Linked DNA regions of Homo sapiens. The protein of the gene in region 1 purifies or fractionates together with the protein of each later gene. This does not show direct contact. Each region holds a gene or a part of one and is shown in the gene's direction. Other genes may lie near its edges.

Evidence for each region.
Region 2: the proteins of SIN3B (region 1) and GATAD1 purify together in Homo sapiens (affinity purification with mass spectrometry; 5 studies listed by BioGRID and IntAct, with this or other methods). This does not show direct contact.
Region 3: the proteins of SIN3B (region 1) and KDM5A purify together in Homo sapiens (affinity purification with mass spectrometry; 4 studies listed by BioGRID and IntAct, with this or other methods). This does not show direct contact.
Region 4: the proteins of SIN3B (region 1) and SAP130 purify together in Homo sapiens (affinity purification with mass spectrometry; 3 studies listed by BioGRID and IntAct, with this or other methods). This does not show direct contact.

Annotation. Positions count from the first base shown.
Region 1 is NC_000019.10:16,831,279-16,839,844, forward strand, and holds part of SIN3B (paired amphipathic helix protein Sin3b), read left to right. Parts: intron 1-215; coding exon 216-369; intron 370-8,566.
Region 2 is NC_000007.14:92,457,482-92,462,141, forward strand, and holds the end of GATAD1 (GATA zinc finger domain-containing protein 1), read left to right. Parts: 3' UTR 1-2,594; downstream 2,595-4,660. UniProt on the Homo sapiens protein: Component of some chromatin complex recruited to chromatin sites methylated 'Lys-4' of histone H3 (H3K4me), with a preference for trimethylated form (H3K4me3).
Region 3 is NC_000012.12:378,157-386,722, reverse strand, and holds part of KDM5A (lysine-specific demethylase 5A), read left to right. Parts: intron 1-748; coding exon 749-826; intron 827-2,569; coding exon 2,570-2,692; intron 2,693-8,566. UniProt on the Homo sapiens protein: Histone demethylase that specifically demethylates 'Lys-4' of histone H3, thereby playing a central role in histone code. Does not demethylate histone H3 'Lys-9', H3 'Lys-27', H3 'Lys-36', H3 'Lys-79' or H4 'Lys-20'.
Region 4 is NC_000002.12:128,010,054-128,018,619, reverse strand, and holds part of SAP130 (histone deacetylase complex subunit SAP130), read left to right. Parts: intron 1-704; coding exon 705-940; intron 941-2,072; coding exon 2,073-2,231; intron 2,232-3,705; coding exon 3,706-3,817; intron 3,818-5,465; coding exon 5,466-5,590; intron 5,591-8,226; coding exon 8,227-8,351; intron 8,352-8,566. UniProt on the Homo sapiens protein: Acts as a transcriptional repressor. May function in the assembly and/or enzymatic activity of the mSin3A corepressor complex or in mediating interactions between the complex and other regulatory complexes.

The DNA of each region.
Region 1 (8,566 bases):
TCTCGAACTCTTGACCTCAGGTGATCTGCCTGCCTCGGCCTCCTAAAGTGCTGGGATTACAGGCATGAGCCACTGCGCCTGGTGGGTCACATTTTAGGTTCCTTTGTTGTCTGTTGAGAAGGTTTTTATGTGGCAGTATCAAGGGAGTGGGGAATAGATTATATTTTTCATTTATTTCCCAAGACCCTTTTGCCCACTTCCGTTGTTTCTTCTAGCATCGATACTCCTGGAGTCATCAGACGTGTCTCGCAGCTCTTCCACGAGCACCCTGACCTCATTGTTGGATTCAACGCTTTTCTTCCCCTCGGATATAGAATAGACATTCCCAAGAATGGCAAGTTAAACATACAGTCGCCTCTGACAAGCCAGGTATGCCACTACAGTGGTTCGGGTGATCTCAGCCTTCACCGAGTATGTCTTGCTACTCAGGTTGGGCCACGTGTCTCTCCTGTATCATTGCTAGAAAGCCACTTAAGATCTGTTCTTTTTCTAGACGTGCTCATTGCTTCTAGCACAAATCAAAATAGATATGGAAACACCTACACAAGCAGCCTCTGCCTCCCAAATTGATCTGTTTGGAAGATTTAAATCAAGAGTGGATGTCAGGGAGGTATCCTCCTAACGCAGAATTTTGTGTGAAGTCTAAATAACCACCTCAGCAGTTGCTGAGGTCTTGGCTTGAGGCTTTCCCAGCGAGCATACCAGGCAGGCTTGCCCTTGTATTTAAGCATGTCCTCGTCTGCCTCTGATCACTCTCAGTACCACCTACAAAATAAAGTGGTCGAGATGGTGTGTGAGTAGCCACGTTTATGTTGGCTGTGTTTCATTTAATTGTTGATAGGATCATTAGCTCAGCTGGGACTCCTGGCTTTGCTTTGGTCCCTTTTTTCTTGGGTGATAGGTGCTGGCCCTCTTTTTTTTTTTTTTTTTTTTTTTGGAGACGGAGTCTGGCTCTGTCACCCAGGCTGGAGTGCAGTGGCGCAATCTCAGCTCAGTGCAACCTCCGCCTCCCAGGTTCAAGCAATTCTCCTGCCTCAGCCTCCCGAGTAGCTGGGATTACAGGTGTGCACCACCATGCTTAGCTAATTTTTGTATTTTTAGTAGAGATGGGGTTTCTTCATGTTGGCCAGGCTGTTCTTGAGCTCCTGACCTCAAGTGATCTGCCTGCTTCAGCTTCCCAAAGTGCTAGGATTACAGGCGTGAGCCACCGTGCCCAGCCTCCTTTTTTTTTTTTTTTTTTAAGACAGGTTCTCACTCTGTTGCCCAGGCTGGAGTGCAGTGGTGCCATCATATCTCACTGCAGCCTCAACCTCCTGGGCTCAAGTGATCCTCCCGTCTCAGCCTCCTAAGTAGCTAGGACTACAGGCGTGCACCACCACGGCCAGCTAATTTATTTATTTTTTTTGTAGCGACAGGGTCTCACTATGTTGCCCAGGGTTGGTCTCGATCTCCTGGCCTCAAGCGATGTGCCCACCTTGGCCTCCCACAGTGCTGGGATTACAGGAGTGAGCCACTGTGCCTGGCTCACTGCCCCTTCTATCTCTGCAGTCTCTTCATGCTTGAGCTTACTAGCGCCTCTGAGAAAAAGAAAGCCTACTTAAGATTTCCTTTTATAAGATGACCATTGTCATTTTTTCCACCTCAACACTATTTCCCATTTAAGGCATAATTCTTTGCTGTTGGGGGCTTCCCAGTGCATTGTGGGGTGTTTAGCAGGATCTGTAGCGTGTACCTACCAGACCTTCACTCAGTTCTGACAGCCAGAAATGTCTCCAGACATTGCCAGGTGTCTCCCTGGGGGGCAAAAGTGCCCCTGTTGAGAACCACCGGTGTAAGTGGACCAGCTCTCCCAACCTCCTCCAGTCCTTGCCTCGAGAGTTTTAGCAGGGAGTGTCAGAATCTACTGCTGGAAGCACTTGGTAGGTCTTCTTTGATGGAAGAGATGATAGAGCGTCCAATCAATTAGGGATCTGACACTCCGCAGTCAGTTGGAAAGAGAACAGCGAAGGGTAATGTGGCAGTGCTTTTGTATTAATTCCATGTGCAAGGTGTGTGTCAATTCTGCTGCTTCTCGGCCAGGCGCAGTGGCTCACGCCTGTAATCCCAGCACTTTGGGGGGCCGAGATGGGTAGATTACAAGGTCAGGAGTTCAAGACCAGCCTGGCCATCATGGTGAAACCCTGTCTCTACTAAAAGTACAAAAATCAGCCAGGCGCAGTGGAGCATGCCTGTAATCCCAGCTACTTGGGAGGCTGAGGCATGAGAATTGCTTGAACCTGGGAGGCGGAGGTTGCAGTGAGCAGAGATTGTGCCACTGCACTGTAGCCTGGGTGACAGAGCAAGACTCCGTCTCAAAAAAAAAAAAAATTCTGCTGCTTCTCTGTGCAAGACCCTCTCTGCCATCAGCCTGTTGTCTCCTGAAAGCCAAGGAGCGAGTCTCAGGGTTTTTTTTTTGCCTTTTTTGAGAAGGAGTCTCGCTCTGTCACCCAGGCTGGAGTTCAGTGGCGCAATCTCGGCTCCCTGCAACCTCCACCTCCTGGGTTCAAGAGATTCTCCTGCCTCAGCGTGCTGAGTAGCTGGGATTACAGGCACGCTTCATCATGCCCGGCTAATTTTTTTGTATTTTTAGTGGAGATGGGGGTTTCGCCATGTTGGTCAGGCTGGTCTCGAACTCCTGACCCCGTGATTCGCCCACCTCTGCCTCCCAAAGTGCTGGGATTACAGGTGTGAGCCACCGCACCCAGCTGAATCTCAGCTTTAAAGGGGAACTTGGAAGCGTGTGGCCACTGAACTCTGAAGAGCCTTCCATTTCCTGTTTGCAAATGAAGCCCCAGGATCCAGATGTACTGCTTGTGTCTTAGACCATGAAAGCCTTAGCAAGACTGATCTCCAGAACAGTCACGACTGCGGGAGAAAGCCAAGCTCATTTGCAATAGCAGCGTCCACCAGAGCACTTTGCAGAGCCTGAATGCTGTGGAAACTCTGGGTCTCGTTCCTGTCACTCACTCAGAAAGAGCCAGAGTGAAAAGATGTGAACTGTGCGTCCTGCATGTGGAAATTGCCTTTCAGCAGAGTCCCTGCCCGTGGAGTAACTCGGCTTTCAGGGCTAGATCTTGACAGGCGCCACACTGGTTGTATTTGGAGTTGGCTCTTCCTTTAAGTAGCTGCGGGTCCCCAACCGTGGAGGGCTGGCAGTCTTGTCTCCCCGTAGGTGGCTTAGGTGACAATGATGACGGTGCAGACCCATCGACTTGGGGAAAGGCTTGAAAAGAACTTTCACTTAGTAGCTACTCAGCAGGGCCTTGGTCATCGTGCTGCAGCCTGGGAACAGTCATTTCCAGGCTTAGGTGTAGAAGTTTGTTCTCTTCGGGGGCCCCTGGGAGCCCACTGGCTTCCAGTTGATATTGACACAGGTGCTGTCAGGTTTCCAGCCCTGTTTCCCAGCAGTCTGGGCTGTTGTTTGTGTGGCTTCAGGACAGAAACATGAGAGATATCCCAGGTCCAGGCCATGACTCGCGTGGCTTCAGGAGTCCTTTGAGCTTTCGGCTCCCTGGAGTCCTTTGAGAGGCCATCGTCTGAAAGCCTCACAGGGTTTCCCACACACAGAGGCCCTGGTGATATTCTTTCTTTCTTTCTTTTCTTTCTTTTTTTTTTTTTTTGTGACAGAGTTTCAGAGTTTCGCTCTTTACCCACGCTGGAGTGCAATGACACAATCTCGACTCACCGCATCCTCTGCCTCCCCAGTTCAAGCGATTCTCCTCCCTCAGCCTCCTGAGTAACTGGGATTACAGGCATGCACCAGCGCGCCCGACTAATTTTGTATTTTTAGTAGAGACGGGGTTTCTCCATATTGGTCAGGCTGGTCTTGAACTCCCGACCTCACGTGATCTGCCTGCCTCGGCCTCCCAAAGTACTGGGATTACAGGCATGAGCCACTGCACCTGGCCATCTTTTTTTTTTTTTTTTTTGAGACAGAGTCTCGCTGTGTTGCCCAGGCTGGAGTGCAATGGCACGATCTTGGCTCGCTGCATCCTCTGCCTCCCGGGTTCAAGTGATTCTCCTGCCTCAGCCTCCTGAGTAGCTGGGATTACAGGTGCCTGCCACCACTATCAGCTAATTTTTGTATTTTTAGTAGAGATGGGATTTCACCATGTTGGTCAGGCTGGTTTCGAAATCCCCTGACCTCATGATCTGCCCACCTCGGCCTCCCAAAGTTCTTTTTTTTTTTTTTTTTACTTTAATTGAATTATTTTTTAATTTTGAGACACCATTTCACTGTCACCCAGGCTAGAGTACAATGGCGTGATCTCAGCTCACTGCAGCCTCCGCCTCTGAGGTTCAAGTCATTCTCCTGCCTCAGCCTCCCAAGTAGCTGCTATTACAGGCATGTGCCACCACACCCAGCTAATTTTTGTATTTTTAGTAGAGACAGGTTTTCACCATGTTGGCCAGGCTGGTCTCGAACCCCTGACCTCAAGTGATCCCCCACCTCAGCCTCCCAAAGTGTTGAGATTACAGGCGTTAGCCACTGTGCCTGGCCTTTTTTACATTTTTAAAACAGAGACAGGGTTTCACCATGTTGTCCAGGCTGGACTCAAGTGATCCTCCTGCCTTGGCCTCCCAAAGTTTTGGGATTACAGGTGTGACCCACCACGCCTGGCCAGTATTCTCTGTTGCTTAGTTTTTCTAGTTTGACTGTTTTGAAGTATCTTTTTCCCCCCCCAATTTTATCACAAAGCCTGCCAGCTACTGACAAGTAGGGAGTGGCCCATAGGTGGTAAGGAAGGTGAATAAGAGAGTCCCAGCCTCGGGCAGCCTTTGGCGCAGGGTGTCTTCAGCTTTGGGGGCCAGACTGTTCTTTATGGCGAGGTGCCGTCCTGCACACTGAAGGGTATTTGAGCAGCCTCCCTGGCCTCCACCCACCAGATGCTTCTAGATGTGATAACCTAAAGTGTCTCCCGTGTTGCCGAGTGTCCCCTGGGTGGCAGAGTTGCTCAGGTTGAGAACACGAGTCTAAAGGGGAAGACAGACACAGGCCGTGGTGTGTGGCCAGTGACGACCTGGGGAATTTGGAGGAAGGAACAGCTTCTTACTGGAGCCTTGCCTTGGCCTCCTGAGTCAGCATCATTTACTGTCTGGTAATTCAGGCCTTGGTTGTAATGTCAGCTCCACAGAGAGCCCCCTAGTCCCTACCCTGTGTCATTCTTACACCACCCTGGGTTATGTATTTCAAAACGGCTAGGAAAAGAAGTTCAGAATGCATTGTTTCTTATTGGTTTTCCTTCCTTGGTTGACGGTGAGTCCTTAAGATGAGGTGGGCCCTGCACTGTCTTGTTCATGACTGTATCCACCTTCTGGAACGTCGCCAGGGAGCAGTGCATGGTGCAGGAATGAGAAACTGGATGCTGGTGGGAACATGGCCGCTCTCAGCTAGCGGGTCCTCTTCAGGGCAGACCCTGCCTCGTGGAAGATGACAGCTGGCTTGGACAGAGACAGAGATAACCCCTTAACGTGCAGCTCCTAACTTAAGCAGCCCCTCGACATTCAAAGGGAGCCCCCTGGCTGTTCTCTGGGGGAAGTCCCGCTAGTTGTCAACAAGTCGATTCTTGTGTTTGTATCTTCTTGGCTCATGGAGCAGGCGGTGACCCCTTCTCCGAGCCAGGCCCTGGGGTTTATTCAGAGGCCCTGCTTTCAGGGTTCCTGCACAGTCAAGGTGGGGGGTCCGATGAGAAACAGATGGGCAGATGCGGGTGGCGCATGGGAGAGGGCAGAGAGAGGATGGAGCAGGCCAGGGAAGGGTGGGAGGAGGTTGCTGTGGGCAGGACCTGTTTCATGAGGGACTGTTCCTGGTGGGGAGTGATGGCCTGAGGTGAGAGTGAGTGGGTGTGCTTGAGGAACAGCCAAGGAGAACGGCAGGGTCAGGAGCTGAAGGAGAGAAGGGGGAGAGGGAGCCAGGAGCGTGAGAACCACTGGATGGTTCTGGGAGGCGGTTCTGCTGCTGTGCTGAGAATGAGGGGTCAGGAGGCCCCTGGGAGACCAGGGAGGGGCCCCAAGTGATGGAGGCGGGGTAGACAGTGATGGAAACAGAGTGGATGGTGACAAGGACCAGAGAGGGTCCCAAGTGATGGGAACAGAGAGGATGGTGACAAGGACCAGAGACAATTCCCAAGTGATGAGGACAGAATGGATGGTAACAAGGAGTAGGGAAGGCCTCCCGAGTGATGGGGACAGAGGTGGACAGCAATGGCGACAGAGTGGATGGTGACAAGGACCAGAGACAGTCCCCAAGTGATGGGGACTGAGTAGACAGTGATGAGGACAGAGTGGATGGTAACAAGGACTGGAGAGGGATCCCCCGAGTGATGGGGACGGAGTGGACAGTGATAAGGACCAGAGAAGTGCCCTGAGTGATGGGGACAGAGTGACTGGTGACAAGGACCAGAGGGGGTTCCCATGTGATGGGGGCAGAGTGGATGATGATGTAGATCAGGAGCGGGGGTGTCAGTGAGAGTGAGAAGTCTGGGCTGATCTCAGGATGCCTGATTCTCTGGGTAAAAGTGTGGGCCCCTGCTGAGGTGCATAAGGCCAGGGCAGTTGGGGGGCTGCTATGTGTCTGTGCGGTGCCTGCCATTTGAGGCTCTGTTAATCAGTACCCAGGCGGGGCTGTGTGTGGATGCTCAGATGGACGTGTCGGCCACGCAGGATGGTTGTCATGGTGTGGGAGGCAGTTCGAACTCTGCCTGATGAGGCCACCCAGGGCACGGGGAGAGAGGAGGTGCCGGAAGAAAAAGAAAACTGGGCTTGTGCTGGGTGGTTTAGAGCAGCACAGTCGGCAAATGGTAGCTTGGAGACCAAAGCCAGCCTGGCTCGGTGTGATTGGTTGTGATTTTTACATTTTCAAAGGATTAAATTTTTAAAAATGTTTCATATTGTGATACTGTTCACATAACATAAAATCATCATCATTTTAAAGTGTTAGTATATTCACAATACTGTACAACCATCACCACTAATTCCAGAACATTAACATCACCCCAGGATCAAACCCTGAACCTCCTAATTCTCCTCTCCCCAAGCCCCTGGCAACCATGAGTCTGCTTCCTGTCTTTATGGATTTGCCCGTATGGACATTTCATATCAGTGGGGTCATACACCGTGTGGCTGTTGGTGTCTGGCTTCTCACTCAGCATCGTGTTTTCCGGGGTCATTCACATCGGAGCCGGTATCAGTGCTTCCTTCCTTAAGACTGAATCATTCTCCACTGTATGGCAGGACCACATTTCGCATGCCCACTCTTCTGTTGATGGATGTTTGGCCTGTTTCCACCTTTTGGCTGTTGTGCATAGTGCTGCAACGAACATTCATGTGTGAGGATGTGTTGGAACACGTGTTTTCTTTTTCTTTTTTTTTCGAGACAGAGTCTCGCTCTGTCGCCCAGGCTGGAGTGCAGTGGCGGGGTCTCAGCTCACTAAAACTTCTGCTTCTCAGGTTCAAGCAATTCTCCTGCTTCAGCCTTCCAAGTAGCCGGGATTACAAGTTCCCACCACCACGCCTGGCTAATTTTTTTGCATTTTTAGTAGAGATAGGGTTTCACCATGTTGGCCAGGCTAGTCTTGAACTCCTGACCTCGTGATCCGCCATCCTTGGCCTCCCAAAGTGCTGGGATTACAGGTTCCAGCCACCGCGCCTGGCTTTTTTTTTTTTTTTTTTTTGAGATGGGGTTTTGCTTTTGTTTCCCAGGCTGGAGTGCGGTGGTGCATTGTCGGCTCACCACAACCCCCTGGGTTCAAGCAATTCTTCCTCCTCAGCCTCCCAAGTAGCTGGGTCTATAGGTGCACACCACCACACCTGGCTAATTTTTGTATTTTTAGTGGAGACGGGGTTTTGCAATGTTGGCCAGGCTCGTCTCAAACTCCTGACTTCAAGGGATCTGTCCACCTCAACCTCCCAAAGTGCTAGAATTACAGGTGTGAGCCACTGCGCCTGGCCTGAGCCACTGTCCCTGGCCTGAGCACCTTTTTTCAGTTCTCTTGGTTATAGACCTGGGAGTGGGATTACCAGGTCATATGGTAGCAATAATTCCATGGTCAACCTGTTGAGGTAACTGCCACACTGTCCCTCGTGGTGGCTGTACCGTCCCATCTGGCTCTTTTTGCCAAGCCCTGGTCTAGAGCGTGGTTCCCCATTTTGTCGCAGTGGCACACTTTAGGGGATCAGAGGGTGCATGCGGAGCTTGGAAATGCCTCCTTGGAATGGTGGGGGGCTCGCAGTGAGCCTACAGCTGCCTCTGAAACAGACCTTGGCTCCATGCTGCTTCCCTACATACCCACACCCTGCTCGTTCCGACCCCTTCTGCCATCAAACCTGTGCACCATGGAGAAACAGACGCAGCCCCCTGTGAGCCTGAGCAGAGAATCATTCCGGACATCCCCAGAGAATCTTACAACAAACCCCGCCACTGACTGGGCGCAGTGGTTTACGCCTGTAATCTCAGCACTTTGGGAGGCCAAGGTGGGCAGATCACTTGAGGTCAAGCGAGACCAGCCTGGCCAATATGGTGAAACCC
Region 2 (4,660 bases), on another chromosome or scaffold:
ATTAAAAGGGATAGAATATAATGAAATATATTTTGAACTTAAATTATATTCTATATGTGTATCTTCCTAGGCAAAAGCTGTAATTTCCAGAGAGACCATTAGGAACAGGTAGTATCTATTTTTCTCCATTATTTATTTCTAGAAACTCATAAAATGGATTGTATTTTTCTATAAGAACAAAATATTAATTAAGGTATAGATGACTGACCAAGGGCTTAATCAAATAAAATGACTAACAGCATCTATCATAAAGCCACACAAGCCTTATGTTCTCATCTCAAAAATGCTGTGACAGCTTTTTGGCTGCTTTAACCATAAGAAAAATGATTGGTGGATGATTTTATTAGCCCAGGCTTTTAAAAACTTTCATCTAGGCCACGTGCGGTGGCTCATGCCTGTAATCCCGGCACTTTGGGAGGCCTGAGTGGATGGATCACTTGAGGTCAGGAGTTCAGGACCAGCCTGGCCAACATGATGAAACCCTGTCTCTACTAAATATACAAAAATTAGTTGGGTGTTATGGTGCATGCCTGTAATCCCAGCTACTCGGGAGGCTGAGGCAGGAGAATTGCTTGAACTCGGGAGGTGGAGATTGCAGTAAGCCGAGATCGTGCCACTGCACTCCAGCCTGGGTGATAGAGCAAGACTGTCTCAAAAAAGAAAAAAAAGAAAAAATTTTAATTTAATCCTTCTGTAGAAACAGGCATTCAGAACCATTCCATTGATCTTAATAAAGCTGCTCTTTACTGTTTCTAGTCAAAAATGAGACTTCGATCAAACCATAAGATTTTATACTGCAGATAGTCAGCTTCACCAAAGCCGCAGAGGAAACATGTCGAGATCAGGCTTCCTGCTTGATAGTCTCTTGACTACCATTAAAACGAATATTGGGAGGTCATGAAAGTCATTGGTAGGCCATTAGCATTGATATCTTTAAAACATCTACCCTAAACCATCTGCTATGGACCCATAATAAGAGGCCTGTTGTATATGAAATTGTCTAGAATTCAGGTGCAGGTCTTTGCCGGTTAAGTAAGGGAGCAACACGTAAAATGGGAGAGGAGTGGGGTGTACTCACTTGCCTCCTCTTTTGTCCTGATTTAACCAGCATTTTTCAACCCTGGGAAAATTTGCAGAATCTAAGTTGATTGTAATGATTTTGAGCTGCAGCAGCTTTAACTCTTACCCTTTTTCCACATAGTTATGGTGTTTGAGTTGGAAAGAAACAACTATAGGTAGCTACACGTACATAATTATCTCTTTATTCACAAAGGGTATAGTAAAATTGATTGTAAATAACTTTCTAAGTGCCAATATTCAAAACTTTTGGATTAAAATGTATTTTTCACCGTGCATTTACTTTGGATGTATTTATTTCATTTAAACAATTTAAATGGGGCTCTTTAACCAAAAATGGTATTTAAAACCAAAACAGTATCGTACTTAGAATTTGGAGTAGAGGCCGGGCACAGTGGCTCACGCCTGTAATCCCAGCACTTTGGAAGGCTGAGGCAGGCGGATCACCTGAGGTCAGGAGTTCGAGACCAGCCTGGTCAACATGAAACCCCGTCTCTACTAAAAATACAAAAATTAGCTGGGCGTGGTGGCGTGCGCCTATAATCCCAGCTAGTCTACTCGGGAGGCTGAGGCAGGAGAATCGCTGGAACTCAGGAGGCAGAGACTGCAGTGAGCCGAGATCGCGCCACTGCACTCCAGTCTGGGTGACGGCATGACTCCATCTCCAAAAAAAAAAAAAAAAGATTTTGGAGTAGATTCATCATTAATAAGTAACAGATTTTAGGAAAATCAAAAAATGGCTAATAAAATGAACACAATGTAAAACATTTATTAAAATGTAGACTTTTAAAAATCTATAAATTGATCATCTGTTTATAAATTGGCAGATGGTTGTGTACCATCTTTTAAAATAAAGATTGAATTTCACCCAGTGTGATGGTTCCCATTGCTTATATTTCTCCTGCTGAGGCCGGACCTGATATGGCCCTGGTCTGTGTTCCCAGCCTTGTTTCCTCATTACCACTAAAATCTTTCCCCTGTATGCCCGCCCAATTTTTCTGGCTCTGAGTCCTTGTTCATACTGTTCTCTCCAATTCTACCTTCCAAAGGCCTTTCTTAACACCTTCGGATTCTTTCTTTGAGAACTTTCCAGATTCCCATGCCTTTTTGGAATCAATCTCTATCCTATTGTCATCACATTTAAGTTTCTACTTCCATCATCCTCACTCCTATCCCTTTGGTCCTGGGATGACAGGGATGCTGTGTTTTATTTACTCATCTTTGTAACTTCCACATAACCTAACCCCGGTTCTTGCTTATGGGAGATGCTGATTGTAGGGTCTGAGTTAGATACTGTTAACTAAAATGCTTGTTGATATTTTAGTTATTAATTCATATTAACTTTGGCTGAAACTTTTAAATTCTATTGTGAATAGTCAAGTAAAATTTAGATTGTTACATTCTGGGTTAGTATTAGATTGTTTTTAAGATTGTTTTAAACAAGATGTTTTTAAGATGAGTTTTAAATAGTTCTCTTAACACAAATAAAGCTTAATATGAGTATTTGAAGGAAATTATCCCAAACCATTCCAGTTCCTGGCTGTGAAAGGCTTTTCCAGGCCTAATAAGTTTTCCACTTCAGCCGTAAGTAGGTGAAATCAAATGAACAATAGAGGGAAATGTATTTATTTGCTTTATACACATGCATGTGTGTTGTGTCTACATATAAACATTGCACACGCTTAGAATGAAGTTTCTGTCATGCCCAGAAAAGGGAGAGGCATTTTTGTGGATTTTGTCTGGCTGCCCTGGGGATGTTTGAAGAACTGTGCTGTTTACTTCATACCAGGTGTGTGAGCCATACCTTTGGTAGGAGGGTATACCTCCTACACCCAAGAAATATAAGCCAGGAGAAGGTCTGTGCCAAGAGAAGGAACCCAAATGACCCACAAGAGGTGGGCCATTAATTATTGGGTCAGATGCATAAATGCACAGTAATTTATTTAAGCACCTCTTAATGGTGACCCACAAGGAAGATTGCTCGTAGTAGCGGAAAGGTTCACAATAAATAAGAGAAAAAAGCAGAATGTAGAACTGTATGATAGCAATTCTGCAAACAAGAAGCATCTTTTATAAAAGATGGAAGGAGCCCAGGCACAGTAGCTCATGCCTGTAATCCCAGCACTTTAAGAGGCTGAGGTGGAGGATCACTTGAGCTGCAGTGACCCATGATTGTGCCACCACTCCAGCCTGGGTGATAGAAGTGAGACCTTCTCTCAAAAAAAAAAAAAAAAAAAAAAAGACGGAAATTCCTCCAGAATTTTAACATGTCAACAGAGGTTTTCTGCAGCTACTTTTTTCAGCTTTATACTTCGCAGTATTTTCCAAATTTTCTCTAACAAGCAGTATTTTCCAAATTTTTTACAATAAGCACACACACACACACACGTTTGTTTGCATAAGTGCCCAACTGGTGGTGAACAACCGCTGGCTTTTAGTCTATACATATCTAGAATATTTTATAAATAGTAGTTCTTAAACCCTTGAAAGGGAGTGAATGACCAGCTGAGAAAATAAAGTCAGTGATTTCATTATTTTCCTATATTCACATCATGATTCTAGGAAAGAACTTGGGAGTGACTTCCTTCAGCTTCAGCCACTCCTGGGCCAGGCGCATGCTTAGCTCTGTGGTAAAGGTCACCAGCTTCTTCTGCAGGGTGCCTGTATCATCTGAATTGGAGGTTTGGCGAGGGTAAGAGACTGATGTAGGTTCAAGTTTTTCTTTCCTGTCCTCCACTTGAAATCTGTCTTCCCTTCCAGACTGCCTGCGCTGCTGACTTAAGGCCCCAACACCAAACACAGAAGCAACAGCCTTACACAGAGTGTTCAGCAAGCTCCAACAATTGTGTAAGGTAAAGTTTCCTTTATAGATTCCTTTTCTATATCGCTCCTAGTGGTTCTGTTTCTCTGATCGAATTCTGGCTGATAACAGTTGCTGAGACTCTGAAAGAGAAGGCAAGGAACTACTGTTTCTCATTATAAACTGTTTAGAATTATTTGGCCATCTTTTTGCTATGAATATGTAGTGCTTTGATACATTTTTTAAATCAAAAAGTAATGAAAGAGATCACATAGGGAAAGATAGATTGGATTATTTTTAAAGTTTATATACTAAATTGAAAAGCAAAGAATAAAATGGGAGAAACAGCTCCCTCATGTGGCTGTTGGCAGGAAGCTTCCATTCCTCTCTGTGGGCCTCCACAGGTTTGCTCACAGCAAATGGTCCGTGACAGAAAGACGCAAGGGCAGTTGCACCCAAGATGGAAGCCACCATCTTTTCTATAACCTAATCTGAAAGAAGGGACATACCAGCACTTCTGCCATATGCTGTTGGGTCACACAGACCAACTCTGGTACAGTGTGAACACAGGACCACACAAGGGCGTGAATTCCAAGGGCAGAGACCACTAGGGACCACCTCAGAGGCACAGAGGGACACCCTATCCAGCTGGTGGCCAATGTAAATTAACATAGCTTTTTAGAATAGCAATATGTATCTATAATCTTAAAAGTATTAAAAGTACTTCTTGATCCAGTAATTTCATTTCTAAGAATCCATGCTAAGAGGATTTAAAATGTGGAC
Region 3 (8,566 bases), on another chromosome or scaffold:
ATCATCCAAAATCTGAATTATTCTTTTTCTTTTTCTTTTATAGAGATAGGGTCTCGCTCTGTTGCCTGGGCTGGTCTTAAGCTCCTGGGCTCAAGCGATCCTCCTGCCTCAGTCTCCCAATGTGCTGGGATTACAGGTATGAGCTACTGCACCCAGCTTGAACAGATTATTTTTTTCATTGTATTAATGGTATGGTATATTTTTTCTGTTAACTACTTAAGTGGAAATAAGTGTAAGGAAATGATTGTTTATTGGTAGCATGTAAATTCACAGTCAGGAATGATGGTGATGCCAGACAACCACAAATTGTCCACACTGGTGGCTGAGCTACTGACACCTTTCTTTTCTGACGGTCCAGTATACACAAGCGTTATGCACCAGATTATTAAAAATATTGCATAAAATTACCTTAGCCTATGTATAACTTTATATGAAACAAAAGAATTTTGTATTTAGGCTTGGTTCTTTCTCCAAGATATCTCATTATGTATATGCAGATATTCCAAAATATGGAAAAATCTGAAATCCAAAACACTTCTGGTTCCAAGCATTTCAGATGAGGGATACTCAACCTGTATTAAAATTATTTTATCGAAAAGAATTGCTCATTCTGTCTCTATAATAAAGAAGACTTGTAAGTTAGTCTATTAGCACCATGATTTGTGGCAAAACCCCCCTTTAAGGGAATAATTAATGCATTCCTTGTTTACATACCACTGTGTTTTTTTAAAAAAATCTTTCTATTTAGGACTGGCAGCCTCCATTTGCCTGTGAAGTAAAAAGCTTTCGTTTCACTCCAAGAGTCCAGCGCCTGAATGAACTTGAGGTAAGTGTTTTGTCACTATTTCTGCTTCCTGATTCATTCTTTATATTAGGGCTGTAGGTAGAGAACTTTGAGAAGCTCATGTACCACAGCCTAGAGTTTGTGTTAATTGGTATTGAATGGAATAGTTACTTGATGTTTGGAGGAAGAGTATGATTTTTTAAAAACTGTGCAAAGTTGTTATGGTTTTTCCATTTAACTGAGAAATGTTCAATGCTTAGCTTCAGAGACTTAGAATTCTTAAATTCTACTTTCTCTAGTGTTTCTTACTCTACTAAAATTTTTGTTAATCTTGGAAGATTTCTTTCTCCCTCGGTTCTTGGAAAATGGATTTTTAAATCCTATTTTAAAACCCTAGTTTTCAGAGTTTGTTTTGTTTTGGTTTGGTTTTGGTTTTGGTTTTAATGGAACTTTGCCAGGAGTGTTAATCTGATTTATTAAGATTTTAAGTATTACTTTTTAATTACTTTAAGTATTATTTTTTAATTACTTTAAGTATTACTAATTTATCTTAAATTTTCTAAATGGAAGTGTACGTTTTGCTGTTTTTTCTGTTTATGGGTTTTCAGAAGGTTCTTCATTGTGATATGAAAACTTTTAGAGTACAGAAGGAAAATTATTGATAGCAAAGGTTTATTATGTCATTCTGAAGTTTTTTTTCTTTTCTCCCCAAAACATTTCTGAGAGTTTAATACATACTTTTTTTTTTTTTTTTTTTCCAGAGAGTCTTGCTCTGTCACCCAGGCTGGAGTGCAGTGGTGCGATCTCGGCTCACTGCAACCTCTACCTCCCGGGTTCAAGCGATTCTCCTGCCTTAGCCTCCCTAGTGGCTGGGATTACAGCGACCATGCCCAGCTAATTTTTGTATTTTTAGTAGAGACGGAGTTTTGCCGTGTTGGCCAGGCTGGTCTGGAACTCCTGACCTCAGGTGATCTGCCCGCCTTGGCCTCCCAAAGTGCTGGGATTACAGGCGTGAGCTACCGCGCCTGGCCGCAATGCATATTTTTTCTTTTTAGTCTCTTGTAATTAGATACTTGACAAAGCATATTAGTATCAGTGAGGTATAGAGTTGATGCACCTAAAGTGTGCATGTTACATATGGATGAAATGACAGAACGTTAGAGACTGAAGAGAATCCGATCTACTGAATTTTCTGATCAGCATAGAGTTAAACCAACTTACAAAAATTGTTTTGGTTGCTAATATGACAACTTTTTACATAAATCAGAGTAACTTTTTTGCCTGAATAAATATAGTTTATTAGAAGTCTTTTGCCTCTTTATTATTGGCTAGTTTTACTATTGGCTAGTTTTACAGGGTTGAAATAAGCAATAATGAAAAAAAGTCTTTGAATTTCTTTAGAGAAATGAGTACCTCTATTACAGCTGTCCCAAACCTTTTTGGCACCAAGGACTGGTTTCATGGAAGACAGTTTATCCATGGATGGATGGGGGTATGGAGGATGGTTTTGGGATGAAACTGTTCCACCTCAGATCATCAAGCATTACTTAGATTCTCAAAAGGTGCTCACAACCTAAATCCCTCACACGCAGTTCACAATAGGGTTTGTGGTAATGCTTGCCCGGTTGGTTGCCCACTGCCGCTGCTCACCTCCTGCTGTGTGGCTGGGTTCCTAACAGGCCGCTGATGGGTACTGGTCCACATCCTGGGGTTTGGGGACCCCTGCTCTGTTATTCTTATTCATTTCAATCATAACTTAGTTCTTCTGTATTTTAATAATCTTAGGCAATGACCAGAGTGAGATTGGATTTCTTGGATCAACTAGCAAAATTTTGGGAACTTCAAGGATCTACTCTGAAGATCCCTGTGGTAGAGAGAAAAATCCTGGATCTGTATGCTTTGAGCAAGGTGAGGCTCATACTGGTTTAGAAATTAGAGCACAGGCTTGTGAATTTAGGAATATCAAATAGATTTGGTAGGAAACATTGCTTCCAATAGAGGATTTGTTTGACAATGAAATGCACTAGCTGGGTATGGTGGCGCATGCCTGTAATCCCAGCTACTCGGGAGGTTGAGGCAGGAGAATTGCTTGAACCCAGGAGGCGGAGGTTGTGGTGAGCTGAGATCGCGCCATTGTACTACAGCCTGGGCAACAAGAGCAAAACTCGGTCTCAAAAAAAAAAAGGACAATGAAATGCACATTTGAATAAATGGAAATGACAGTTCTCAAAGTTATCTTTAAAACTTATTTTATATTTGTTGAGATCAATATTTAATTACTAAATATTAATATTTATCAGGCTCTGTGATATACAATATGCAAAATAAATTACTCTAGCCTGCTAATGTTATCTTGTGCTGAGTGTACAATGTTCTGTGTTGAGCTTGTCATCTTTTTTTTTGTTACTTAATTGAAAATTTGGGCCAGGCACGGTGGCTCATGCCTGTAATCCCAGCACTTTAGGAGGTTGAGGTGGGAGGATCACTTGAGCCTAGGAGTTAGAGACTAGCCCAGGCAACATGGTGAAACCCTATGTCTACTAAAAATACAGAAAAGCTAACTGGGCATGGTGGTGCACACCTGTAGTCTCAACCACTCAGGAGGCTAAGGTGGGAGGATCACATGAGTCCGGAAAGTCAAGGCTGCAGTGAGCTGTGATTGCGCCACTGCACCTCAGCCTTGGCCACAGGAGTTAGACCCTGTCTCAAAAAAAAAAAAGAGAAAATTTGGCATATTAAAGAAACTCATGTTTCTCAGCATTCTTATGTGTGGTATATATTAGTTTTGTTAATACGTGTATGTAGTGTTAATGGCTGACTGAGGCCATCATTATTCAGTAGGATGACCAAACAGCTCAGAAACTTAAGGGTGAAGAGTTTAGACAAGTTTTTGCTGAAATTGTGTTAATTTTTTAACATTATATTCCCTAATGTGAAAAAAAAAAACTAACTGACCTGCAAGCTGAGATTATAATAACCTTGAGATATGTTTTTTTCTCTTTTTTTTGAGATGGAGTTTTGCTCTTGTGTCCAGGCTGGAGTGCAATGGCCTGATCTTGGCTCACTGCAACCTCTGCCTCCCAGGGTCAAGCAATTCTCCTTCCTCAGCCTCCCGAGTAGCTGGGATTACAGGCATGTGCCAACACACCAGGCTAATTTTGTATTTTTTAGTAGAGATGGGGTTTCACTATCTTAGTCAGGCTGGTCTCGAACTTCTGACCTCGTGATCCGCTCACCTTGATCTCCCAAAGTGCTGGGATTATAGATTACAGGCGTGAGCCACCGCGCCCGGCTAAAATATGTTTTGTTACTACAATAATACAAATTTATTATTGCTTAATTATCTGGGAATTTTGTAAAACAACTTCTTCTTGTGGCCTTTCATATCTTATAATTTATATACTATTTTGAAATAAAAATTTATTCTTATTTAAATTGCAGTTACTTTTAGAAGATTTCACTTTTTTTTTTTTTTGAAATGGAGTCACGCCCTTGTTGCCCAGGCTGGAGTGCAGTGGTGCCATCTCGGCTCACTGCAGCCTCCACCTCCCGGGTTCAAGTGATTCTTCTGCCTCAGCCTCCCGGGTTCAAGTGATTCTCCTGCCTTGGCCTCCCAAATACCTGGGATTACAGGTGCCTGCCACCACACCTGGCTAATTTTGTATTGTTAGTAGAGACAGGGTTTCTCCATGTTGGTTAGGCTGGACTCGAACTCCTGACCTCAGATGATCCACCCGCCTCAGCCTCCCAGAGTGTTGGGATTACAGGCGTGAGCCACCATGCGTGGCCAGGAAGATTTCACTTGTAAGGAAAAACATGAGAATAATTCGTGGCATGTGGTGGCTCATACCTATAATCCCAGCACTTTGGGAGGCTGAGGTGGAAGGATTGCTTGAACCTAGGAGTTCGAGACCAGGCTAGGCAACATAGTGAGACTCCATCTCTACAAAAAATTAAAAAATAAATAATCCTGGCATGGTGGTGGACTCCTGGAGTCCCAGCTAATCAAGAGGCTGAGGCAGGAGGATTGCTTGAGCCCAGGAGGTCAAGACTGCGGTGAGCTGTCATCACACCACTGCATTCCAGCTTGAGTGACAGAGCAAGACCCTGTTTCCAAAAAAACAGAGTAACCATATTTAAATTATCTTTTATGATACATTTTAAAATTAGTGTCAGGTCAAAATTCTCTTACTAAAAAATTTGGGAAGTACGGTCTTACGCTAAAATACAGCTTGAGACTTTTTTTAATCAGTCAGGTAATGATGTTAGTAAGTAAGCACTGTGTCAAGAATTGTCTAGTATAGTTATATGAAAACCTATGGTACTAAAGAACAAATTATGCTAAATTTGGGTGGTGGGTTTCTTCTTATAGGGAACTATTAGGATAAAAATTCATCTTAAGAATGCTTTTTTGAAATTTTTATTCAATCAAAACTTACCTACTAAGTTTTGCTGTATGATGCTGTTTAAGATTCTGAATGTGTTTGACTGTAGTATGAATAAAATACAAAAAAAATTTCAAAAATTGGCTCGGCACTGTGGCTCATGCCTGTAATCCCAGCACTTTGGAAGGCTGAGGCGGATGGATCACCTGAGGTCAGGAGTTTTTGAGACCAGCCTGGCCAACATGATGAAAACCTGTCTCAGCCGGGCACGGTGGCTCATGCCTGTAATCCCAGCACTTTGGGAGGCTGAGGCAGGAGGATCACTTGAGGTCGGGAGTTCGAGACCAACCCAACCAACATGGAGAAACCTCGTCTCTACTAAAAATACAAAATTAGCCGGACGTGGTGGCACATGCCTGTAATCTCAGCTACTTGGGAGGCCGAGGCAGGAGAATTGCTTGAACCCGGGAGGTGGAGGTTGTGGTGAGCTGAGATCACGCCATTGCACTTCAGCCTGGGCAATAAGAGCGGCACAACTCCGTCTAAAAAAAAAAAATAAAATAAAACCTATCTCTACTAATTATGCAAAAAATTAGCCAGGTGTGGTGGTGGGCACCTGTAATTCCATCTGCTCAGGAGGCTGAGGTAGGAAATCACTTGAAACCGGGAGGCAGAGGTTGCAGTGAGTTGAGATAGTACCACTGCACTCCAGCCTGGGCAACAAGAGTGAAACTGTGTCTGAAAAAAAAATTTTTTTTTCAAAAATTATTTTATCATTAATAGCAATATGTTGTAGTACTCTTTAATGAAGCTCTTTCTACTTTTTTTTTTTAGACAGAGTCTCACTCTTTTGCCCAGACTGGAGTGCAGTGGCACAATCTTGGCTCACTGCTACCTCCATCTCCCAGGTTCAACCGATTCTCATGCCTCAGCCTTCTGAGTAGCTGGGACTGGGATTAAAGGTGTGTGCCACCACACCCAGCTAATTTTTATATTTTTAGTAAAGATGGGGTTTTTACCATGTTGGCCAGGCTGGCCTTGAACTCCTGACCTGAAATGATCTGCCCACCTTGGCCTCCCAAAGTGTAGGGATTACAGGTGTGAGCCACTGTGCCCGGCCAATCTTTATCTCTATTTTATTTTCATAAATACCCTAAGGAATTTGCTAGAGTAAGTATTAATAGTATGAGTAGTAATCTATTGAAACTTTCTCTGTCAGTGATTTTCCATTTAAAAGGTAAACCTTAGGTTTAATCTGATGGTAAGTTAAATTGCATTTTTTTTTTTTTTTTGGAGACGGAGTCTCCCCCATCACCCAGGCTAGAGGCGTGATCTCGGCTCACTGCAACCTCCCACCTCCTGGGTTCAAGCGATTCCCCTCACTCAGCCTCAGAAGCAGCTGGGACTACAGGCGCACACCACCACGCCTGGCTAATGTTTGTATTTTTAGTAGAGACGGGGTTTCGTCATGTTGGCCAAGCTAGTCACGAACTCCTGATCTCAAGTGATCTCCCATCTTGGCCTCCCAAAATGGTGGGATTACAGGTGCAAGCCACCGTGCCCGGCTGCACTTTTCTGGTTTTCTAAAGTCATAGGATTTCAAAATAGGGAAGGGGCTTTTAGAGGTAACCTAGTCTGAATACTTAGTTGTTCACAATTCTCCTTATAACGGTCATCCAGAGTGTTTAACTCCATCTTGAGAAGCTGATTTCCTTTTAAGGTTCATACTACTAATAAAGTACACTTTGTTTAAATATTCAGAAAACTTATTGAAAATATGTTATGATTAAAGGTTAAGTGTGCTTATCTGACGGTTTATTGGAATCTTGTCTTTGTGGGTTTTTTTAAGTCCTCATGGACATCTCTTTCCCCAACCTGTGAGAATGTTTGCAAAACTGAGATTTAAAGCTAAAAGGCAGACAAACTTTGATTTGTAGTTATTTTAGTTTATAATACTTTGTTCCCTAAATGTCATTGTGAGATTGCTGCTTCTCACGTTAACTTTTTTCTTTTACATTGAGGTGTAACTTACAGTGTAATGCACAAATTTCAAGCGTACAGTTCAATAAATTTTCATATGTGTACACCTGTTTTGTAGCCATCACGCAGATCAAGATATATAACATTTTTATAGCACTCTAGTGGGTTGTTTCATCTCCTTTCCAGTCAATACTTCTTCACAAAGGTAATTTATTCTGACCTTTATCATTGGGTGACTATTTATTTCATTAACATGACATTTTATTCTAGCAAGAGGCTTGGGCTGAAAACTGCAGAAAATACTGAGAGTTGAGATGTTTTAAGGTTAGGTGTGCCCTTTTTTAAAAAAAAGATTATTTTTGGCTGACAGTTTGTTGGCATCTATTAAGTTTTTTTTTTATATATGATTTGAAAATACTATGATTCCCATTGCTTTTTGATGGGAAGCAAATTTTCAGTCTTCTGAGTCATTAAGTCATCAGCATGATGGTTTCCTGTTTTGATTAAATCACTTCATCTTTCTCCCTATTATTTTTGATAATAAAAAGTATTACTTGGAATGCCTGTAATTTAATAGACTTCTATATGAATAATTAGTTTTTTTTTTTTTTTTTTGAGATGGAGTCTCACTCTGTCACCCAGGCTGGAGTGCAGCAGCACGATTTTGGCTCACTCTAAGCTCCGCCTCCTGGGTTCATGACATTCTCCCGCCTCAGCCTCCCGCGTAGCTGGGACTACAGGCGCCCACCACCACGCCCGGCTAATTTTTTGTATTTTTTAGTAGAGACGGGGTTTCACCCTGTTAGCCAGGATGGTCTCAATCTCCTGACCTCGTGATCCGCCCGCCTTGGCCTCCCAAAGTGCTGGGATTACAGGCGTGAGCCACCGTGCCTGGCTGAATAATTACAGTTTTTATAACCACTTCAGCAAGAAGCATTCAGTCTAGCCCTTCTTGTTAAAACATTTTTATTTTTATTAAAGTAGTACACTTTTAAAACACAAGGCTTTGGCTGGGTATAGTGGGCTCATACTTGTAATCCCAGCAGTTTGGGAGGCCGAGGCAGGAGGATCATTTGAGCCCAGGAGTTCTAGATAAACTTCCTGGTCTAGACATAGGGAGACCCCGTCTCTACAAAAAATTTAAAAAGATTAGCTAGGTGTGGTGGCATGCGCCTGTAGTCACAGCCACTTGAGAAGCTGAAGCTGGAGGATCATTTGAGTCCAGGTGTTTGGGGCTACAGTGACCTCTGATTGCACCACCTGGGCAACAGAGTAAGACCCTGTCTTTAAAAAAAAAAGGGGGCTTAAAATGAAAATCAGCATCTCCCTTCATCTCCACCCCCATTCCTACTCCTCAGAACTAATCACTTTCAGTTCTTTTAGCTGTTTCTGATTTTGATCTTCATATTTCCAAGTA
Region 4 (8,566 bases), on another chromosome or scaffold:
GAGTCTTACTGTGTTGCCAAGGCTGGTCTTGAACTCCTGGGTTCAAGGGATCTGTTTGCCTTGGCCTCTCAAAATGCTAGGATTGCAGGTGCAAGCCACTGCACCAGCCATCCTTTTTTTTTTTTTTTTTTTTTTTGGAGACAATCTTCCTCTCTCGCCCAGGCTAGAGTGCAGTGACGGAATCTTGGCTCACTGCAACCTCTGCCTTTTGGGCTCAGGTGATCCTCCCACCTTAGCCTCCCAAGTAGCTGGGATTACAAAAAAACGTGGTTTTTGGTTTTTGGTTTGTTTTTTTTTTTTTTTTTTGTATTTTTAGTAGAGATAGGGTTTTGCCATGTTGGCCAGCATAAAATATCTTTTTAATGTCAGGCTTTTATAACTTTCTAAGAGGATGTTTTAAATGAAATTGTCTTACATCCTGTATTGTACTTTTAACTATTTCAGCTCATTTTAGATGATTTTCAGGTAGTTTGTTCATAAGGCTACAATATCCAGAATAAATTCTATATTCCACAGTTGTGGCTCTTTTGTCTGATGTCCATCAGGAGAATCCAGTGCCCATATTGACCTTGTTAAGAAAACATCACAAGGAAATGGCCACTTTGTCAATCCTGAGATTTAACTTCAGGTACCACTCTTGTCTGTGCTGCTATCTTACACTGGGAGACTGTGACATACTGTCTCACTCTTAATGTCTTTACTAGTCAATGATGAATCTGGTCGAGATTCTGAAGTCAGTGCCAGGGAGCACATGAGTTCCAGCAGCTCCCTCCAGTCCCGGGAGGAGAAGCAAGAGCCTGTTGTGGTAAGGCCCTATCCACAGGTGCAGATGTTGTCGACACACCATGCTGTCGCATCAGCCACACCTGTTGCAGTGACAGCCCCGCCAGCACACCTGACGCCAGCAGTGCCACTTTCATTTTCGGAGGGACTTATGAAGGTAATGGAGAGGGTTAAAACTTCACACTGAACCAGAGCTCGAGACTGGCTAATGTTTGTAACAATTTGTATAAAATCTTAGGCTGTATCTTAGGATCACATTTCATTTTTTCTTTATGACATATGAGTTCAGCTCCTTTCTGTAACTCAGCCCTGATTTTCTGCAGTGCCTTGTCTTGTGCTGCTGGGCAGTTGGCATCATAGGATCTTTGCTGTTATCCATTTTGATACTGATATTATTCAACTTATGGGCATGTTAAGTTAGATACAATCTTGAAGGGACCCTCTTTTTTTTTTAAGCCAGTCAGATTTAGCAGTGGGGGCTTAATGACATTAATGTTTTGTTTCTGTTTTTATTTGAGACGGAGTCTTTCTCTGTCATCCAGGCTGGAGTGCAGTGGTGCGATCTTGGCTCACTGCAACTTCCACCTCCAAGGTTCAAGCGGTTCTGCAGCCTCAGCCTCCCAAGTAGCTGGTATTACAGGCGCACGTCACTACGCCTGGCTAATTTTTGTATTTTTAGTAGAGATGGCGTTTCACCATGTCGGCCAGGCTGGTCTCAAACTCCTGGCCTCAAGTGGTCTGCCCGCCTTAGCTTCCCAGATTGCTGGGATTACAGGCGTGAGCCACTGTGCCCAGCTGACAGTAATGTTATAAGTTCAGATAACCCAGTACCATGGGACCAAGTGGAGTGGCACTCTTCTTTAAGGTTTGTTTTAATAACTGGTTAATTTGGGGGTTTCTGAGAATATTGCCTGTGTATTACCTTGGGGTTGTGTTTCAGTTACTGGGAGTTTTGTTCAATCCACCCAAACTTGGGAGGCAGCATCATGTAGAAGAAAGGGTGTGGGCTGTGAGCCATACAGCTCTGGGCTTTATTCCCAGTTCTACTTCTTACTGTGTGTGTGGCTTTGAGCAAGTCAGTTAGCCTTGCTTTGTATGTTTCTTTATCTGTGAAATAGAAATGCTAGTACTTCAGTGGAAACACTGTGATGATAATAGATAAAATGTATAAAGCTTACGGCATCTTTCCTGGCACTTTCCAGGTTCGATTTGTGCACTCTTAATTGTGGATTGAAATGCATCACCAGTATGAGGCCATTGATATGTTTTGTGTGGTTTTCTGTTTGCAGCCGCCCCCGAAGCCCACCATGCCTAGCCGTCCCATTGCTCCTGCTCCACCTTCTACCCTGTCACTTCCCCCCAAGGTTCCAGGGCAGGTTACCGTTACCATGGAGAGTAGCATCCCTCAAGCTTCAGCCATTCCTGTGGCAACAATCAGTGGACAACAGGTTTTTCTTCCTTTTAATTTGCTGATTTTCAAACTGAAATGCCAAACTGTTGATCATGATTTATTGAATGCTAGCAGTACATTAGTCACGGTAATAAAAAAAGATCAAACAGTCACTGATACCTGCAAGTGAAGATAGTAGGTTTGAGAGAGAAGGATAACTGTAAAGGGAGTAGAAGCCAGTGTCCATAGTGGTCATTTAGCTAGAATTTATTGAGCAGCTACTAGATGCTCGATTCGACCCTAGTGTGATATATAAATCTAGATAAAACAGTCCGTGTCCTTGAGGAGTCCGGAGTCCGGTTCGTGTTTGGTTTTAGCGTCAAGAACTGCCTTCCGGGGGTAGGCAGTGCTGCTCTGTGGTTTCTCTGAGGAGAGCAGATGTGCATCTCTTGGGATAGGTTACCTCAAGCAGCTCTCTAGTTCCAAACTTTTTTTTTTTTTTTTTTGAGACAGAATCTCACGGTGTCACCCAAGCTGGAGTGTAGTGGTGCAGTCTTGGCTCACAGCAACGTCCACGTCCCGTGTTCGAGCCATTCTCTTGCCTCAGCCTCCCGAGTAGCTAGGATTACAAGCGGGCACCACCACCCCCAGCTAATTTTTTTATTTTAATAGAGACGGGGTTTCACCATGTTGGCCAGGCTGGTCTCCAACTCCTGACCTCAAATGATCTGCCCGCCTCGGCCTCCCAAAGTGCTGGGATTACAGGCATGAGCCACCGCACCCAGCCTTAGTTGCGAACATTTATTCTGAAGTCTTCTGTTTTAAGGTTTTTTTGTGAAATTTTGCAATCCTACTCTGCTGTGTACCTGATTAATTAAATATTTTACATTTTTTACCTGGGGAAAAAAACTAAATCTAAAAACTTTCCCTTCACATTTTCAAGAAAAATTTATATCCCAAAGAGGTGTACTGTGTTTTTTCCTTTTGTCATACTGCTGAGTACTCTCAGAAGTACCAGAACCCTTAGCTGAGAAGCCCTGAACTCTGTGGTTTGGGAGAATGTAAGGGACATTTCAGGGTTGAGCTGAAGAACTGGTAGGGAGCACCTGTTGGATACCAACTGACATTTACTTAGAAACAAAAAAGCTTAAAGAATGGATGGATGCAGTGGTATGTAAAGGAAATAGTGAGAATGGGAAAAAAAATAAGCATTTGGCCAGAACAGGGAAAACAAGTGTGAAAGGTAATATCGCAGATGAGAGTTTCTAAACGTAGATATCGAAGTATATTATCTGTAATTATGTGGGCCTGCAGCAGTTGTGGGGTCCTCATACTTCTCACATGCCTGTTAGCACAGTTCATTGTACGGTATGGCATGTAAAAGTAGCTCAAGCTGAATGTCCTTAGCCCTTTCTCTTGGGATACTCACTATCTAAAAAACAACCTGACCCACATTTGGAGGCAGGTGACTTCCTAGAGGCAATGGCTAAGAGCAAACATGTAAAAATAACGTTCTATCCTCTTTCTTTCAGGGCCATCCCAGTAACCTGCATCACATCATGACTACAAATGTGCAAATGTCTATCATCCGCAGCAATGCTCCTGGGCCCCCTCTTCACATTGGAGCTTCTCATTTACCTCGAGGTAACGACTTGCAAGTTTTGTTCAAACTCTCAAAATGTAGTAGTAGATATACATTTGGTAAAATACGTAACACAGAATGTATCTAGAATCAGCTTGTTAAAGTTGCAGAACAACAGTCTGCAGAACCGTGAACCAAATAAACCTCTTTTATTTAAAAAGAAAAAAAGGCCAGGTGCTGCGGTTCATGTCTATAAACCCAACACTTTGGGAGGCTGAGGTGGTAGGTTCACTTGAGTCCAGGAATTTGAGACCAGCCTGGGCAACATGGCGAAACCCTGTCTCTACAAAAATACAAAAAATTAGCCAGGTGTGGTGGCATGCGTCTGTAGTCCCATCTACTCAGGAGGCTGAGATGGGAGGATGGCACTCAGGAGGCTGAGATGGGAGGATGGCACTCAGGAGGCTGAGATAGGAGGATGGCACTCAGGAGGCTGAGATGGGAGGATGGCACTCAGGAGGCTGAGATGGGAGGATGGCTTGAGCTCGGGAGGCAGAGGTTGAAATGAGTTGAGATTGCGCCGCTGCACTCCAGCCTGGGTGACAGAGCGAGAACCTGTCTCAAGAAAAAGAAAAAAAATCGCAAGACAGTAGAAATAAACTTAGAGCAATCCATGTTTTTAGCATGGTTTAATATGTGCTTATTATAGTTGTATTACAAGTGTGTATATTTATGCAATTAAAGTGTTTAATATGGTCTAAAATTGTCCTATATATTGAGGAACTGCCCAAGCTTTGATAATCTCAACATGGTCTTTATTATTAGACTGCTTATCTGCAACATGGTCTTTATTTTTAATACATAAGTCACAAATATTAATACTGAATATTTTTAAAGTTCAGTGATGATCTTTACTCAGTTTTTTAACTTATGTAACAATAAAATGATGATGATAATTATTTTTTGAGATGGGGCCTCACTGGGTTACCCAGGCTGGTTTCAGATTTCTGGGGCACAAGCGATCTTCCCACTTTAGCCTCCTGAGTGGCTGGGACTACAGGTGTGAGCCACCACATGGCTAAGATTAATTTATTTTTACCCTTAAGTTCTAATAGGTTGTGAGGTAATAAATGAATTTTGACTAGAAATTTTTACCTTTTATTGGAGACTTTACAACAATTGGAGATTGTTGGCAAAATCAAGTTAGCAAACGCAAGACCAGGTTTGCTTGGTTATAGCATAACTCAGCAGTTCTCCAAATGTGGTTCACAGGCCCTTATGGGGGTCTGCAGGGTGAAAAGTGCAGGGTTAGGTTTAAGGTTAAGGTTCATAATGTGTCCCTTTGGCAATGTCGACGTCTGCTCTAATGGAACAAAGACTGGAAGGCAAAGTGTCCGAGCCTCGTCAGAGCTGAGGCAGTGGCATCACACTGCTGTTCCCTGTGTGCTTTACCACTGTGCACACTTGCAGTTAACAGAAACAAAAAACAGCAGCTAGTTTCACTTAAGGTTGTCTGTGAAGAGGCAATATAAATTATTATTAAATCTCTTGAATACACATTTTCTTTGTTTTCTCTGTGATGAAATGGGAAGTATACATACCATACTTCAGCTCGATATTGACATGCTATCTGAGTTTTGGGAAACATACTGATTATTTTCCCAGGGAATATAACTAGAATAAATATAATAAACACTTTTTTTTTTTCAGGTGCAGCTGCTGCTGCTGTGATGTCCAGTTCTAAAGTAACCACAGTCCTGAGGCCGACCTCACAGCTGCCAAATGCTGCTACTGCTCAGCCAGCAGTACAGCACATCATTCACCAACCAATCCAGGCACGTCGGAGCCTGGGGTGCATTAAGGGCCTCATTGGAGTTATTCATTCTGCCAGGCACTAGGCACATCCTTGACCTCAGGGACTTTCCATCTAGTTGCCAAGACATAGGGAAGTTTGAAAGATGCACAGTGTCATGTGGCAAGCTGTAAGAATGCAGAGGAGAGATGGTGGGAAGCCTTCCTGTTGGAAAGGCTGTGCTAACGAGGAATCAGAGAAGTGAAGAGGAAGTGAAGGGGGAAATGAACAGTGGCAAGGAAGGGAGTGATGGTTGTAGACAGCAGTTAGTAAAGGCTAGCTAGGATTGAGGGATTTTAATTTGGATTGGGGGGATCTGTGGACTCCTAAAAGTTAGGTGTATATCTATGTATATTCCAAGAACATGGTCCATGCCATTCAGCTTTTTCTTAAGGAAATCTATGACCTCATTATTACTGAAGTATAATATATTTGCAGGAAATATAGTATCTATAAATTGGGTTCTCTAGGATATGGAGTATAAACTAGACTTTATATACAGTAGAGAGCCACTGCGTTTTTTTGTTTATTTGTTTTTGTTTTTTGAGACAGTCTCACTCTGTTGCCCAGGCTGAAGTGCAGTGGTGCGATCCCAGCTCACTGCAACCTCTGCTTCCTGGGTTCAAGCGATTCTCCTGCCTCAGCCTTCCAAGTACTTGGGACTACAGGTGTGCACCACCATGCCCGGCTAATTTTTATACTTTTAGTAGAGACAGGATTTCACCCTGTTGGCCAGGCTGGTCTCGAACTCCTGACCTCAAGTGATCTGCCTGCCTCGGCCTCCTGAAGTGCTAGGATTACAGGCGTGAGCTACTGTGCCCGGCCAAAAATCATTTTTGTCTTTTTAACACAATGGCTCTGTGTATCATTAAAGTAATACTGTTGAAAGATGAGATTAGGCCAGGCGCAGTGGCTCACACCTGTAATTCCCAGCATTTTGGGAGGCCAAGGCGGGCGGATTGTCTGAGATCAGGAGTTTGAAACCGCCTTGGGCAACATGGTGAAACCCTGTCTCTACTAAAATGCCAAAAAATTAGCTGGGCATGGTGGTGCGTGCCTGTAATCCCAGCTACCTGGGAGGCTGAGGTGGGAGAATCACTTGAGTCCGAGAGGCAGAGGTTGCAGTGAGCCAAGATCGTGCCACTGCACTCTAGCTGGGACGAGAGAGTGAGACTCCATCTCACAAAAAATAAGAAAGATAAGATTAATCTAGCTGAATCACATACAGGAGGTCTGTCCCCTTAAGCACTTTCAGGGGACAGACAGATGTATGAAACAACTGGGTTTAAGATAATAAGGAAGTCTTGATTATGATACTGGGTAGTATCTGTCTAGCCTACAGCTTTCAAGATAAATACTTTTCTGGCCAAGAAAACAGAGTCGGAGGAGTATTAGGCCTCTAGTAGTATATGTGATACATATGAAGGGTTGGAGGAAGACGAGAACCAAGACAAGGAGCTCCCGAGTGAGGAAGCTGGTGCTGTAGCCCTAGTGTGAGACACGCACCTGCACATGGTAGAAGCGGCAGGTAAAAGGGCTGTAGATGAAAAGCAAGGATGAGGAATGGGCAGAGCTCGGCCATTTAGATGCATGTTTCAGGGTTAAGAGCAAGGGAAGAATCAGAACTCAGGTGATTCGAAGAATAATGGTGGGTATGTGGATGAAGCCCAGTGTGGAGCTTATTTTTTAGAGGAAGATTTCACACGTAAGTGTGATAAGGGCACTCTGTCCATGTGAAAACATCCAGAAAGGATATGGGCACCCTGAACGATTACCTAGAAAAGAATACTGTTACCTTGAGTTGCCCTTGTACTCACTAACGTAGATGGCCTGAGAGCCAACAGCTCTATTCAGCAGCTGAGTAGGCCCTCTGTGGAGGTGCTGGGTTGGATGGCAGCGTAAAATGTCTACACCAGGACCAACAACAGACCTGTGGCAACTCTAGATTGAAGGGTGAGATCCCATTGGTACCAATAGTAGGGCAGAATTTTGACTCCAATCACATTTGTACAGGAGGGACTCATGTACTGTTCAATCAAAATGGGATTTTTTTTTTTTTTTCAAAACACTTGTCAGTGGTATCTTAAGGGATTTTTTTTTTTTAATAATTCTGACTCTTAGTCTTTTTTTTTTTTCTTTTCTATTTTTTCAAGACAGTTTCTCTCTTGTTGCTCAAGCTGGAGCGCAATGGTGCGGTCTTGGCTCACTGCAACCTCTGCCTCCCAGGTTCAAGCGATTCTCCTGCCTCAACCTCCTGAGTAGCTGGGATTACAGGCGCGTGCCACCACACCCGGCTAATTTTTTTTGTATTTTTAGTCAAGACAGGGTTTTACTGTGTTAGCCAGGCTGGTCTTTTAACTCCTGATCTCAGTTGATCTGCCCACCTCAGCCTCCCAAAGTGCTGGGAATTACAGGCGTGAGCCACCGTGCCCGGCCTGGCTCTTGGTCTTATAACAACCTATCTGAAAAGAGAATTCCTTAATTGGAATGGTGAGAATTTATTTTTACTTGGGCAGAAACATGCTTATCTGTAGGCTCAAGTTTCAAATTACACATTTAGTATTTGACTTCCTCTATTTTATTTTTGTTTTAAATGAACTGTTTTTTCTCTTTTGGTAGTCTCGGCCACCTGTGACCACCTCCAATGCCATCCCTCCTGCTGTGGTAGCAACTGTCTCAGCCACCAGAGCTCAGTCTCCAGTCATCACTACGACAGCGGCGCATGCTACTGATTCAGCACTTAGGTATACATGGGGAGTATGAAGTTTGAACCTTCCTGCCATCCTCCTCCTTCACTCTTTTTTCTTTCGTTCCTTCATTTAAGTAAATATTTATTGAGTGGCTTTTTTTTTTTATAATGAGCTATGTAGTGTTCTAAATCCTGGGGCTAAAGCTGTGAACAAAGAAATTGCTGCCCACACAGAGCTTCTGTTTTTACAGGCTGGAGACGCGATAAATA